Linked DNA regions of Homo sapiens: all the other regions are reported to be linked to region 1. The links are microRNA targets in miRTarBase. Many come from high-throughput screens and were not tested one by one. Region 1 holds a microRNA gene; each other region holds the end of a gene's coding sequence. Distances are from middle to middle.

Region 1 (4,246 bases):
GGAGTGGCTGTAGCATTCTGAAAGAATCCTGTACTTCAAACACCCTTTCTTACCTGCTTGCTGAGTGGTTTCCATGCAACGTATTTGAAAAGATTCAAGAAATTTATGCACAAAAAAGGAAAAAGAATCCACTGCATCTTTTCCTCAGTTTTAGTTCCAGGTCTTCCTCTAACAAGATGTGTGATGTTGGGCAAATCATGTAACTTCCCTGACCCTCAGTTCTCATAAAAATTGTAGTTTTGACTAAATGATTGTAACTCTCCTAGTTCTAGTGTCTAGTTGTCTCTCTCTTATTTAAATTGGAAGTTGGTATAGAGAATTAGAAGAAAACTTCAAAGTACTATAATAAATAAAAGATATAGGAATCCCCAGAACTCACAATAAATTCTAATACCATTATCATAAAGATGATACCAAAAGTATTGTTTCTTATAATGTGTATATTCTCTCCTTTTATCATAATTACTAAAAATATTGTATTATAGATCCTTAGCCCATTACTTCCAGCAATACACTGTATATAATTTCCCAGATAATGTGCAAAGTGTTTTTTCACCCTTTTTCCAGAAGCATGGCGATAAATGTAATTAATACAAAATGTTTTAAAACAAATAACTTTTAAAAAAAATTACTTTAGGCCAGGTGCAATGGCTCACGCCTGTAATCCCAGCACTTTGGGAGGCCAAGGTGGGCAGATCACGAGGTCAGGAGATGGAGACCATCCTGGCTAACATGGTGAACCCCATCTCTATTAAAAATACAAAATATTAGCCAGGCGTGGTGGTGCACACCTGTAGTCCCAGCTACTTGGGAGTCTGAGGCAGGAGAATTGCTTAAACCCGGGAGGCAGCGGTTGCAGTGAGCCAAGATTGCACCACTGCACTCCAGCCTGGGTGACAGAGCAAGAGTCCACGTCAAAAAAAAAAAAAATTACTTTTACTACAAGCAAACCCTGAAGCATCCTGGACAGTCTTGACCTGTGAGATACCCTCTTACTTCCACAGTCATGGAAACTATGCATTTTCCAGATGGCATATAAGACCCGATACCTATGTTTTTCTAGAATCCCTTTGCAGTGGACTTTTCTTCTTCCTAAGGCCCATGGTGCGTGCATGGTCTCTAATGAACAGATGGCACTTGGTCCCTGGATGAGCTCTTGTACCTGCAAATCTTGAGAGCTTGGAGACAAGCAAGAAAATCATTTCAGACCCTCTCCTCCACTGTCAGCACCACTTCCCCACCCCTTTCACCTTGATCTGCTTGGTTTTGTGTTTTTGGGAAAACCCACTAGTTATTGGTCACTACCTGCTCACAAGTCAATGTAATGCTCCCCGTCTTGTTTCCATCTTGGTTTTCCTTTGTTTAAGAGGATGAAGCCACTTAGGACCCCTATATGAATGAGACTTGTTTGGTTGAAAGTTGACCCAAAGTAATAAGTGGTTTATTGTAAAGAGGAAAGAGGTCTATAAATAGAAAACCCTGGGGGACTGAGGCTGGCCTCAGGACCAGGGAATAGCAGAACACAAGTGTGCAAGTCAGAGAACTAGCCAAGAGTTTATAATCAAGCTTCTAAACAGGAAGTCTCAATTCAACTTCAAAAATTACTTTATAAAGAATTCAAGTGCCATGAAGGCATGTTTTAACTTGGCTTCTTTGGCTCAGAATAGTGTATATTGGTATCTCTAGTGGCTATCCCCTTCCCATTGTTAAAAACAACATGTGAAAAATCCTACAAAATAGGTAAAACACATTTTAAAGTGCCATTGACTGCTGAGGCAACTCACTTAATATCAACAAGTCTCAGTTTTTGGAAGAGGTATTGCCACCCTTTCTAGTCTAATAGGGACTAGAAAGGGTGGCAATACTCTTCAAAAACTTCACAAGGAAGTTGTAAGGAATATATGAGATCATCTATATAAAGCCCTTTGTGAACAATAAATCACGATAAACATAGACTTGTTGCATCTATCATATCACTTAGGGTTTTTTTTTTTTCTCTCACAGATTAAGGTAGTTCAAAAAGGAAGCCAGAATTTTCACTTTCTCTTTATTTCTGCTCCCAAAGAACCGTCAATTGCTTAAGGGATTGCTCCCAAAGAGCCTGGAGGTAGAGGACAGGAGGAGGCAGTTGTTTATTTAGTTTTTTGAAATGTTTCCAAGGAGAATGAAAACTAAAATTTGTGTGTGTCCTTTTTCATTTGCCTTCTGTCTAAATTGGAGTGTGGACAAAGGGCAGCCGCTTTGCTAGATGTGGACATTTGCTGAGCAGTATACTGTGCTCCAGTTGCAGGTGGATAGTGCCTAGCACTCCTCATTAGCTCATGGTTCTGCATCACATTCTTCAAAGAGCTGCTAAAGCACCCACACACCACCTGCCTGAGGGTGCAGCCAGGGCTGAGTGACATAGTGTGTGCCTCTCCTGCAGGTGCATTAATAAGGAGCCACAGGGGTTATAAGAGGCAGAGGGCTGAGAAGATGTTTCCTACAAATGGATCCGAAACACAGCCTGTTTGTATATGTGCAATTCATTGGCTTCTTGGAAACAATCCTTTGCCCAAAGTAACAGTTTATAATCGTGAAAATGTGACTAAACTTTAAAAGTACATGAGGAAAAGGACTATTTCTATTTTGCCGAGTCCAAGTTGGATTTGACTTTGGCCTTTCCATATCCCAAATGGTATCCACTGTTTTCAGCATTTTGGCCCTGAGAACAGCTGGTGAAGAAATTGATTGAGCTCAGAACAATCCTTCAGATGTCTAGAATAATCAACCACCTTCCATAATTTCAGTCTTACTAACTACGTGATATGGAGTGCACAGAAATCTGATTGACAACTCAATTAGTCCAAATTCCAGTTTGCTGCCATCCACACATCCACAATGTGCACACAAAGGTCAGCTAGTTTATAGAAGAGAAGAAGAAATGGGAGATTTATAATCGAAGGATTAAAGTCGATCACTAATGATCACTATTTAAACAAGGACCTGCTGTTACTTGTTAAACAAGGAAAGATTTGGAGGCTTCCATTTGTTAATGTCATTCAAACATCTGCTGTACACATTCTACCAATGGGCTATGAGCCACAGAACCCAATTGTGACTGCTGGGAACAGTCAATGGGGCTCAGTAAACTGCCTTGAGGAAATGGTCTGCCACAAACATCTGTAGTTATTCTTCAGCTGAAAGGCCAATATTTCCAGGGCAGCTGGGTCCCTCTAAGTCAGTGATTCATAGCTTCAGCTGCACCCTGCAATCACCTAGGAGCTTTAAAAAGTACTGATGTTCATCTCATCCCCAAGACCCCAGGAACTTCCATTTAATTGTTCTGGGGTGTGACCAGGCACACAGGTGATTCTGATTTTCAGTCTGGTTTGAGAATTCTTGGTCCAAACAGACAGGACTTGGTAGCTGGAAGATGTAACCACCAAGCCTCCCATATAATTTAATTAGCACGGCAAATTTGGGCTCATTTGTTCTGCTGGATTCAGGCACTTCACTGGGCAGTGGAAAATTTCTCACCAATTCACTGCCCTTTTGCCTCCAGCTCACCGTTACTTTTTAAACATCTTATTTCCTTTTGTTATTTTCAGTAACCTTCTGTAATTGCAAAGGCTTTTTAAAAAATGTCTTTTTGGGGGCACTTCAGCATATTCAATTTGGTTTCCTTCATATTTTAGTTTGGCTTCATTGATATTTATTTTTTGTATTCTAGCTGTTTCTTGGATGGTTCTTATTTTTCTACTAGATTCATGTTATTTGCAAACACTATGCACAGAATCACTTCTGGTGAGAAAAGGGACAAGAAGAATAAAGTACTCTTATTTTCCCCATGACCCCACACCCCACAGAGTCACTGAGGCTCCCTTTTGTAGATACTAAATGGGAGAAGCATTAACCAGCTTCACCCATCTGCTAACCACCTTGTGCAAGGTGAGCCTTCTGGTCTCCCTGGAGCATGTACAGTGTGTAAAACCTGAGGTATTATTTAGACCTTGATGTGTTACTTGGCAACAAAAGAGGAAACAAGTATAATTTGTTAGATAATAATCTGGCACAAAAGTGCATACAAAGACAATTAGGAAATGTAAAACACAGATTCGTTTATCAGTTATAAGTATACCCAATGCCCTAAATGAGTAGACACTTAGTATCCACTTTAGCCAATGCAGCCATGATCTCCCTCTCCTTATGTTTCATTGTCTTTTTTATAAGAAGCTGGTGTGCAAGGTTGATTTCAAACCAGTAA
Region 2 (4,246 bases), 29 Mb from region 1:
GCCAACCTCTCCTACCTATACTCCTTCGTAGAACTGCAGTACCTTTACAAGCTAAAGTTCTTTACCTTCCTTTCATCTGCCAAAATCCAGGAAAGAAGAGCCCATAGTGAAATAAATACTTACAGTCACCCCACCCCCTAAGTTGCTTGCAATGTGTCATCAGCCTCTATAATTCAAATCTGCTTTATCAGTGGCATCAATCTTCATCCTACTGAAATATCTATTGGTTGACTAACACCTTCTGTTTTGAATTTGTTCCTCCTGTCTGACCAGTCTTCCTCTGTCACCCCTAAGCAGTAGCCATGTCTCTCTGTTCTAATTACTCTTACTTCTCTTTTACCCAATAAAGCCCACATAGGTTGTCAGGCTCTGAGAGTTCTCATGTCCTGGTCTCAATCTTCCATCTTTCTCTTCCTTTTCCTTTTATTATCACATTAATTGACAACTCACTGTTCAAGGCAGGTCACCTGTGCTTTCCTTTTTCCATGGTTCCCTCTGGAATCTTCATTCAATGCCCAGCTTAAATGTTTCCCCCTCCATGAACCCTGCTCTAGTTCCCCCAAGCTATAAATCACCACTTCAGACTCCATCGACCAGGTCCAAGCTGCCACCTGCTCATGACTCGACATTTGTAAAAGCTTCCCAACTAGTATTCCTGCTTTTTTGCCTTTCTCCTGTTTCCTCTATACAATCACCAGAATGATCTCTCAATCAAAACTCTTCACCATGGCCTACAAGGCCTGGTCTCTGCTAACATTTATTGGCCCAGGCACACTAAGCGCCTTTTAAAAATTCATTAATTTAATCCTCTCAATAATCCTACGGCTATGTACTTTTAATATCCTCATTTGCAGTAGATGCTGTTGGTGACTTACCCAGACCCCTTTCACAGGACTGGTGCACCCATACCCTAGCTGCTGTAGGTGTTGGCTGGTAAGAACTGACACCTCCACCCTTATCTGGAGGATTGCCCTTGGCTGAGGAGAGGTAACAGTCACTCCTCCATCCTTTCTCCCTGTAGCCAGTGGTCCGTGACAGCCTGATGTGGGAACCTAATGGCTCAGCCCCTTCAACTCTGGGCAGGACAACGCTGGGCCCAATTCATTCAGCAGAGTGCCCTATGAGTCAGGGTGAGGCTGCACTACTCCTGAAACTCTTCTTCCCCGGCCTTACCCTGCTTGCTTTACTCCATTACAGATTTCTCCTGAAAGTGCTCCCTCAATCACTTGCCCAAGAATCCCCATCTCCGGCATTGTTACAGAGGAAGTGATCTAAGACACCATTTTACAGATCAGGAAACCTAAGACAAAGAGGGCTGAAGTGATCTGCCTAAGGTCAAACAGAAAATGGGAAAGCTGAATTTTGAAGCCAGAGGGCCTGGCTGTCCCACCTGAGCTCTTTCCCACCATACTGCAGTGGCCACTTCTCCAACCTCCTCTCTCTCCTCACCCATCCCCTCTAGCCAACTTAATTCCTCCCTCAGGCCCTTTTTACTTCCTGTCCTCTCTGCCTAGAATGTGTTTCCTCTCACTGTGGCTCGCTTCCTCACTTCTTTCAAAATGTTCCAAATACTATCTCAGAGACCTTTCCTGACCCCAACCATACTACCTAAGATAGCAACACTATTCCCCCGTTCTGCTGTAGTTTTATTTATAGCATTAAATACCTGAAATTACATTATGCATATATTTCCTTTTCTGTCACTTACACCAAGATGAAAATTCCCTGAGGGCAGGAATATTGTCTGGCTTATTTATTGCTATATCCTCAGTGCTTGGTGACGTACCTGCCAAAGAGCAGGAGTTGAGTGACTATTTGTTGTTGAATGACTGAAATTGAGTTCTCTTCTGTCAGAACTCTTACCAGGCTTTGTGAGATATTCCTTACGAGTTCTTAATCTATAGCTGTAATTATTTAATGCATATTTATCTATCACACAAGCTTGTATGCTCTCAGAGGACAAGAATTATGTTTTATTCATTTGGGAGTACATAGGCGGTATTTAAACAATGGTGCTATCTTAAACACCAAATATCAACTGCAGTTCACTTTTTCCGTGTGGGGACTAATATCAAGATTTCATATGAATTATAGTATAATCCAGAAGTATGAAAAAATACATCATATTTAACTTATAAAGCATTCATCTGCATGTTATAAGATATTACAGTAAATACAATTAGGTACTTACCATTTTATCTTTACTTTAAAAACAATGCCTTTTCCAAAATATAAAAAAAAGACCTATTTTTAAAGAACTATTTAAAGATGGCTTTGAAAACAACACTTTTATTTACAACAAATAGATGGTAGTGCAACAGCACTCGTGGATGTTTACGATAAATAAAAATACTAGTATTCTGGCATCCTTTGGGTACAGGCCCTTTTATATTTATAGATGTCTACAATGACTCATAAAAGTAAAATCAATAAAGGCTATTAATTTGTATTTCAACCTGAATTTGAGAAACCAATGAAGATTAATCATTTATTTGGGATCTAGATCCATATATCTGAAAACTGAAGTATAAAGTTTCTCATTTCCATTTACCTTGTCAACAAACATATCCCAAACATTTCAGCATCTGTAAAAGGTGATCTATTTAGCATCTGTAATAAGTGATTTATAGTTATATATGCTAAATAAAGGTTGACACAGCTGGATCCTAGAAGCTCAGATTTTATAAATTTAAAATAGATTAAGTATTTATGCCAAAAAACAAGAACTGGATCTAGGATTTTATTTTAAATTATGGAAGTCTCTGGGGAAAAAAAATAGCAATGGAATGACAATAGATGTCAGATATTTCTCTGAGAAGTATATAGTTTCTCAATTTTCGCTAGGTAGTGCATCCCAACTGAATTAAAACTAAAGCATATTTACAGTGCATTTTTTCTCACTAAAATTTCCCAATTCTAAAATGGTCTGGCCAGGCGCAGTGGCTCACGCCTGTAATCCCAGCACTTTGGGAGGCCAAGGCAGGCGGATCACAAGGTCAGGAGATTGAGACCATCCTGGCTAACATGGTGAAACCCCATTTCTACTCAAAATATAAAAAAAAGTTAGCCAGGCGTGGTGGCAGGTGCCTGTAGTCCCAGCTACTCAGGAGGCTGAGGCAGGAGAATGGCGTGAACCCGGGAGGTGGAGGTTGCAGTGAGCTGAGATCACGCCACTGCACTCCAGCCTGGGCGACAAAGCAAGACTCCATCTCAAAAAATAAATAAATAAAAAAATAAAATAAAATGGTCTGGATTTGGTCAACACCTTATTCAGTAAATCCTTAATTTACCTTGAGACATACAAAGACATTCTTTTAAAGAGCTATTTTCTTGGTATTGCACAAAGGTTAATTTTAAAGCAATCCAGGCAAGTAAGCTCACAAAAAGAAGTACATTCATCTAATCCATTTAGCAAATGTTGCAAATCAGCTTCCACCAATAAAACGTAGAAATCTGTGAAACTCTATCCTTCGTGTCAGTTTTAACATTGTGTTGATGGCAGCCATTTCAGGCAGAGGTAGCCAAGTTCCATATATATGGGGAAGGCAAAAAGCAAGAAAAACATTGCAGGAGACTTAGCAGTTCTCTGGCTTCTAATGACTATAGAGCAATTTCGAATATGAGCCATGTTTCTATGCAGAATTCTTCTTTTATGCCTTAAACACAAAAGAGCTTGTTGCTGCCTTGGGCAGATATACTGGAATTGTCCTCTTTGAGCTTACTTTCTCTTTTCTCTAAGGTCAAGTAAAAAATGTGAGACGTTTTCATATACCACAAAGGTAATACAGCAGGCTGGAGTCACTCTAATCAAATTAGGAGCAATTCCCTTGTAAAATCCACCGACGCCTTCTTTCCTTTAGAGGGAAAAATAGATAATGCTTAATTTTGTATAGAGCTAGCTTGAAAACACGGAAGTTCTAACTGACACAAGGCATGGAGCAAGCAGCAGTCAAACCTTACTCTGATTTAAGTTCATGTTTTCAATGTCCTAAAGTAATGTAGTTTATAAGCCATCTGTAGGGATTTACATTCCTTTTATGGATGGACTGAGTAAGAGAGGGTAGGGACACCTCAAAACTGAACTAAAAAGTGCTTTCAATTAGCTATCTTTCAAATGCTTTTAAATGTATGTACAAGCAGGAGTTTTAATTGACCTAATGTAGGCATTAAAAAACCTCATAGCTTGGATAAATGCTAGCCAACATTAAATACAGCACATACAAATATAAAACTTTATTTCCTTAAT
Region 3 (4,246 bases), not on the chromosome of region 1:
CTCAATATATATTTGGGAAGGAGATTTTTTAGAATTGCTTTCAGAGTCCAACCAAGCTATACTATTTTGTATTTCCCCAAATCTTTGCATTTAAGGATAGATTTCATTTCCTTTGGGGGGGATAAAGAGCCCCCGAAGTCATTCAAAGTAGAATCTAAAGTAAACCAAATTGGGTAATGCTACATCTGGTTGAAAATGAAGGAAGATTATTAAAGTAATAAGAACTGATTTGTTGTGTAGCTTTTAAAATGACTGTAAAGGCAGTTTAAAAGAGGCTTGCCTCGAAATGTTCTGGGCAACGGCAGCACCTCAGTGATGACTTTCAAGGGCCTTCTTTTAAGTGCACATTTATTTTTTTAAACATCACGTTATTTTAGTCACACCTCCTTCTGCTACCTGAAAGATATATCATTCCATAACATCTGTACTGAATATTTTTCAAAGTATTTCAGGAAGCCATTTTCTCCTAACACCTGGTATTTGTGTTCAAAGCCATTAGAACCTCATTCTCCTGACCCAGGAGAATTCTTTAGATACACCATCACTCCTCTGTTTATCATGTGCCAAGGAACTCCTATTAATGCAGTTCACCTTCAGTTTGTGATAGCAGTGTTTTCTTTGTGTGTAATTTTTTTTTTTGGTCTTGTTTTGTTTTAACCAAGTGAATTTCTCTTTTGTTTACCAATTGTTTAATGACTCCATCAGGACCTCTTAAAAAATCACACTAATTTAAATAAATTTTAAGCCTATGAAAATAAATAATTCCAAAACTCTTCATCTTTTCCTCAGTGACACTGCTTTACTGGAGGAAGAACTGAAGAAACTCATTGATGCTCTGATAGAGAATTTTCTTCAGCCTAGTAAGAATGGACTGATCTGGCGTTCTGTTTAGGGGTACACCAATATGTCATGACACTGTGTGGGCATATGGAACAGAGCAACCGAGAACTGCATACATTGAACCTTGTGTTAGCATTCTCTCTCTATCTCATCTGGCCGAGTATCTTTTTCCTTTTATTTTCTTTCTTTTTGGTCAACTGGCTAGACTAAACAAAGTATAAGTTTGAAATGAAATGGTCTAGAGGGAAATGATTCAAATTTTTTCATAATTCAAACAAAAGTTATTACACTAAAAGTATTATAGTAACGTATTGTCCTTCCGTTAACAGAAACATCACAATTCAAAAGTGAGTTTTCTTATTATAGTGTGATTAAGCCTAGTTCTGTATCTCGTAATTGTGTATAGCATGGTAAAAGAAAAAAAAAAAGACAGGTAAATGTTATATAATTGTAGGGTTAGTTAAGGAAATTAGTCCATAAAATTGGCAAGAAAATGGTACTTTCCTTGATTGTTATGAAAAAGTGTCATTGTGACATCACAGGTATTAATTTACAAATTAGAGTATTTGAAATAGGATATTTAGCATTTCTGTAGTTTAGAACAGATGTTACAGTGTGTGGTTTTGGCATGTCTGTTTCAGGTGCCCTTGGTGCAGTATAAATTTACTGTATGTATTTAAAATTCTGATGTTTACTGAACATAAAACAATAGTGGCAACACTCCTATTGGCTTTGTTCTTATCAAATTTCTCAGTGCCTTCTCAGGGTCTGGTGTGAACAGAAAAAACAGTGTTCCTGCATTTACCATAATTTAATCAGTCAATTTGCAGATAGCTAAGGAAAATCTTCCAAAATCTGTAGGTGCTTCCTCTATATCAAGTGAGTTTGCTGATTTTAAAATCTTAGGAATATAAATAAAGATCTTAATAAAAGCAAGCTTAATGTAGTTAAGGATCTTCATATTAGAATTGTGTCATTTATCAAACCTTTTATTACAGAAAAAAATCTGAACTGAGAAAGGAGCTCTGAATTTATTTGACAGTCTAACTTTTGAATTACATTTTTGTAAGTAGATTTATTCTTTTATTTTATGAAGTAATGTTAATTTTACTAAGAATAAAACATCCAAATTTTAAGTATTATGAAATACTAAAACTACATGTTTTAAAACAGAGGTCCAGTTTATTCTAACATCTTGCTGACTTCTGTAGAATTTCTGATTGCATGACTATTATTTATCTTCTTTTAGTGTAGAAAATAATTTTTTACAAAAAGTCACTTTTGGGCTGGGCGCAGTGGCTCACGCCTGTAATCCCAGCACTTTGGGAGGCTGAGGCAGGTGGATCACAATGTCAGGAGTTTGAGACTAGCCTGGCCAATATGGTGAAACCCTGTCTCTACTAAAAATACAAAAATTAGCCGGGTGTGGTGGTGGGCACCTGTAGTCCCAGCTACTCGGGAGGCTGAGGCAGGAGAATTGCTTGAACCTAGGAGGCTGAGATTGCAGTGAGCCGAAATCACGCCACTACACTCCAGCCTGGGCAACAGAGGGAGACTCCATCTCAAAAAAAAAAAAAGTCACTTTTGGCTAATCATGCAGTCTTCTGAAAAGGTTTAATAGAGAAATGCTGTTTAGGCTGGGCTTGGTGGCTCACATCTGTAATACCAGCGCTTTGGGAGGCTGAGGCAGGAGGATTGCTTGAGGCCAGGAGTTTAAGTTACAGAACTATGATCACACTGCCGCACTGAAGCCTGGATGACAGAGTGAGACCTTATCTCAAAAAAAAAAAAAAAAAGAGAGAGAGAGAGAAAAAGAAATGCTGTGTTTAATCTTCTTAAAATGTATCTTGTCCTACATAGTTCTCAGAATACATATGGGGTATAGTTAGGAGATAACAATAACAAGACCTAAACAAATTGCTTATGGGAGATAGCACTGTAATTAGAGAATTTATTTCATATAAAATAATAATATAAAGTTTGAACTGATTAGAATGTTCCTTAAATCATGGTTTCGTTTGTTGCAGCTGTCAGCTAACATTTGGTTGAGCTCATATAATCCAAACCTAATTGTCCAACTATTGTATTGCCACTATTGTTAATTTGTTCCTTCCTTACTTTCTTATTGTTGGATCTTATATGACTGTATGACTGTAGATAATAGACAGCTAGCTAAATGTAGAGCACCATTTTTCTCAATGAGTTTGTTTTCAAAGGCTTTGCACTGGAGAAGATATGTGTAGAATTTTTGTTTTATTTTTAAAATGTGTAAAACATCTTTTGTTTTATATGCTTTTAAGAATGTAGATTGTAATTTAGGAAATGGCATATATTCTGCAAAGTGGTATAATGTTGTATATATGAAAAACAGGTATATTTGGTTTAGTTCTGTGTTTCAGTGACTGATAAACAAAAATGAAGCTAAAATGAATCAACGGCTCATTCATAGTTACTAAAGCCATGTCATGACTGTCATTCTATTATGAAGAAAACAGTTTTATTTGAGTGCTTTAATATAATGCAACATTTAAGTCATCTTAAGGTGAAAAGTTATTGAAGTGTTCTTCTCTCAAGTTAACAAAATTTTACAAATGTTCCTGAAGTGTATCGATTGAGGGAATTATTTTATTCTAGCCTGTCATGAGTCTGTCTGAGCATGATACTTAACATGAACTTGATGTAGTAGGTGCACATTTGCCTAACAGGATAAATTCAGTGATAGCCCAAGCTGGTCAGGAGAGACAGAAGTGCTGGCTAGGAGGTCTCAGCCTCGGGCACTACAATGTTTATCTTTTTCTTTTTGAACAATATTGTGAAAATGATTGCATTCTCATTGAGCATGAAAGTCAAAACTGGAATTTTCTAAAGCTTTGGAGAAAAGGAGAGAATTAGTAGGGCAAGATCAAAGCATACATTGGAAATAAACAGTAGAAATAAGCAAACAATATAAAGAGACACGGGAAATGCTTCTCGTGAAGGGCAAATGTAACACCATAACAGTAGGGAATAAACTGTGTCCCACCTGTTTACTTGTGTTTATTTGTTGTTATGATGAGTATGCACCTACCATTTTCCTTTATTGTGATCACTAAAATGAGGCCAAGGTTTAGGAGGTGAGAAAAAGTATCCCTTTTACGGATTCAGTTCCTGCTAGGATGTTGTATCAGAATCATGTGAGAACTCAGGAAGAGGTAGAGCAGAAATAAAAAGGAAGAAAATGTAGATTAGAAAATAAGACTTCTGAGAAAAAGTTCAAGGAATAAAGATTGTTTGACTCTGGAGAGGAGAAAGCTGTTGAGATAGTTTGCTAAGTTTGCTAATAAAGCTTTATTGAGTCTTTTATTGAAGGGTTCAAAGTAAGAAATACTATGCCATAGTGTTCTCCATCTCTAGTGAAGACAGAACC

Evidence for each region. Region 1 holds the annotated microRNA hsa-miR-5681b (AGGUAUUGCCACCCUUUCUAGU, at 1,815-1,836, shown strand). A microRNA usually pairs through its seed, bases 2 to 8, with sites in the 3' UTR of a target mRNA and lowers its output. Matches are read on the target gene's strand: a 7mer-m8 pairs with bases 2 to 8, a 7mer-A1 pairs with bases 2 to 7 and ends in A, and an 8mer does both.
Region 2: miRTarBase lists SLC25A32 as a target of hsa-miR-5681b. Seed matches in the 3' UTR shown: 8mer at 3,332-3,339.
Region 3: miRTarBase lists PGM2L1 as a target of hsa-miR-5681b. Seed matches in the 3' UTR shown: 7mer-A1 at 2,502-2,508.

What each region holds. Positions count from the first base shown.
Region 1 is chr8:74,546,174-74,550,419 of GRCh38, reverse strand. MIR5681B (microRNA 5681b) reads left to right here and starts at 1,811; the gene lies at 1,811-1,870. MIR5681A (microRNA 5681a) reads right to left here and starts at 1,877; the gene lies at 1,803-1,877.
Region 2 is chr8:103,396,693-103,400,938 of GRCh38, forward strand. SLC25A32 (solute carrier family 25 member 32) reads right to left here. Exons shown (of 7, transcript NM_030780.5): 7 at 1,946-3,854. The coding sequence ends at 3,719. Among named protein-coding and RNA genes, the nearest start is that of SLC25A32, 16 kb to the right of the region's middle.
Region 3 is chr11:74,333,298-74,337,543 of GRCh38, reverse strand. PGM2L1 (phosphoglucomutase 2 like 1) reads left to right here. Exons shown (of 14, transcript NM_173582.6): 14 at 790-4,246. The coding sequence ends at 892. All of the region lies in intron 2 of LOC112268078 (a long non-coding RNA gene), which reads right to left. Among named protein-coding and RNA genes, the nearest start is that of P4HA3, 24 kb to the right of the region's middle.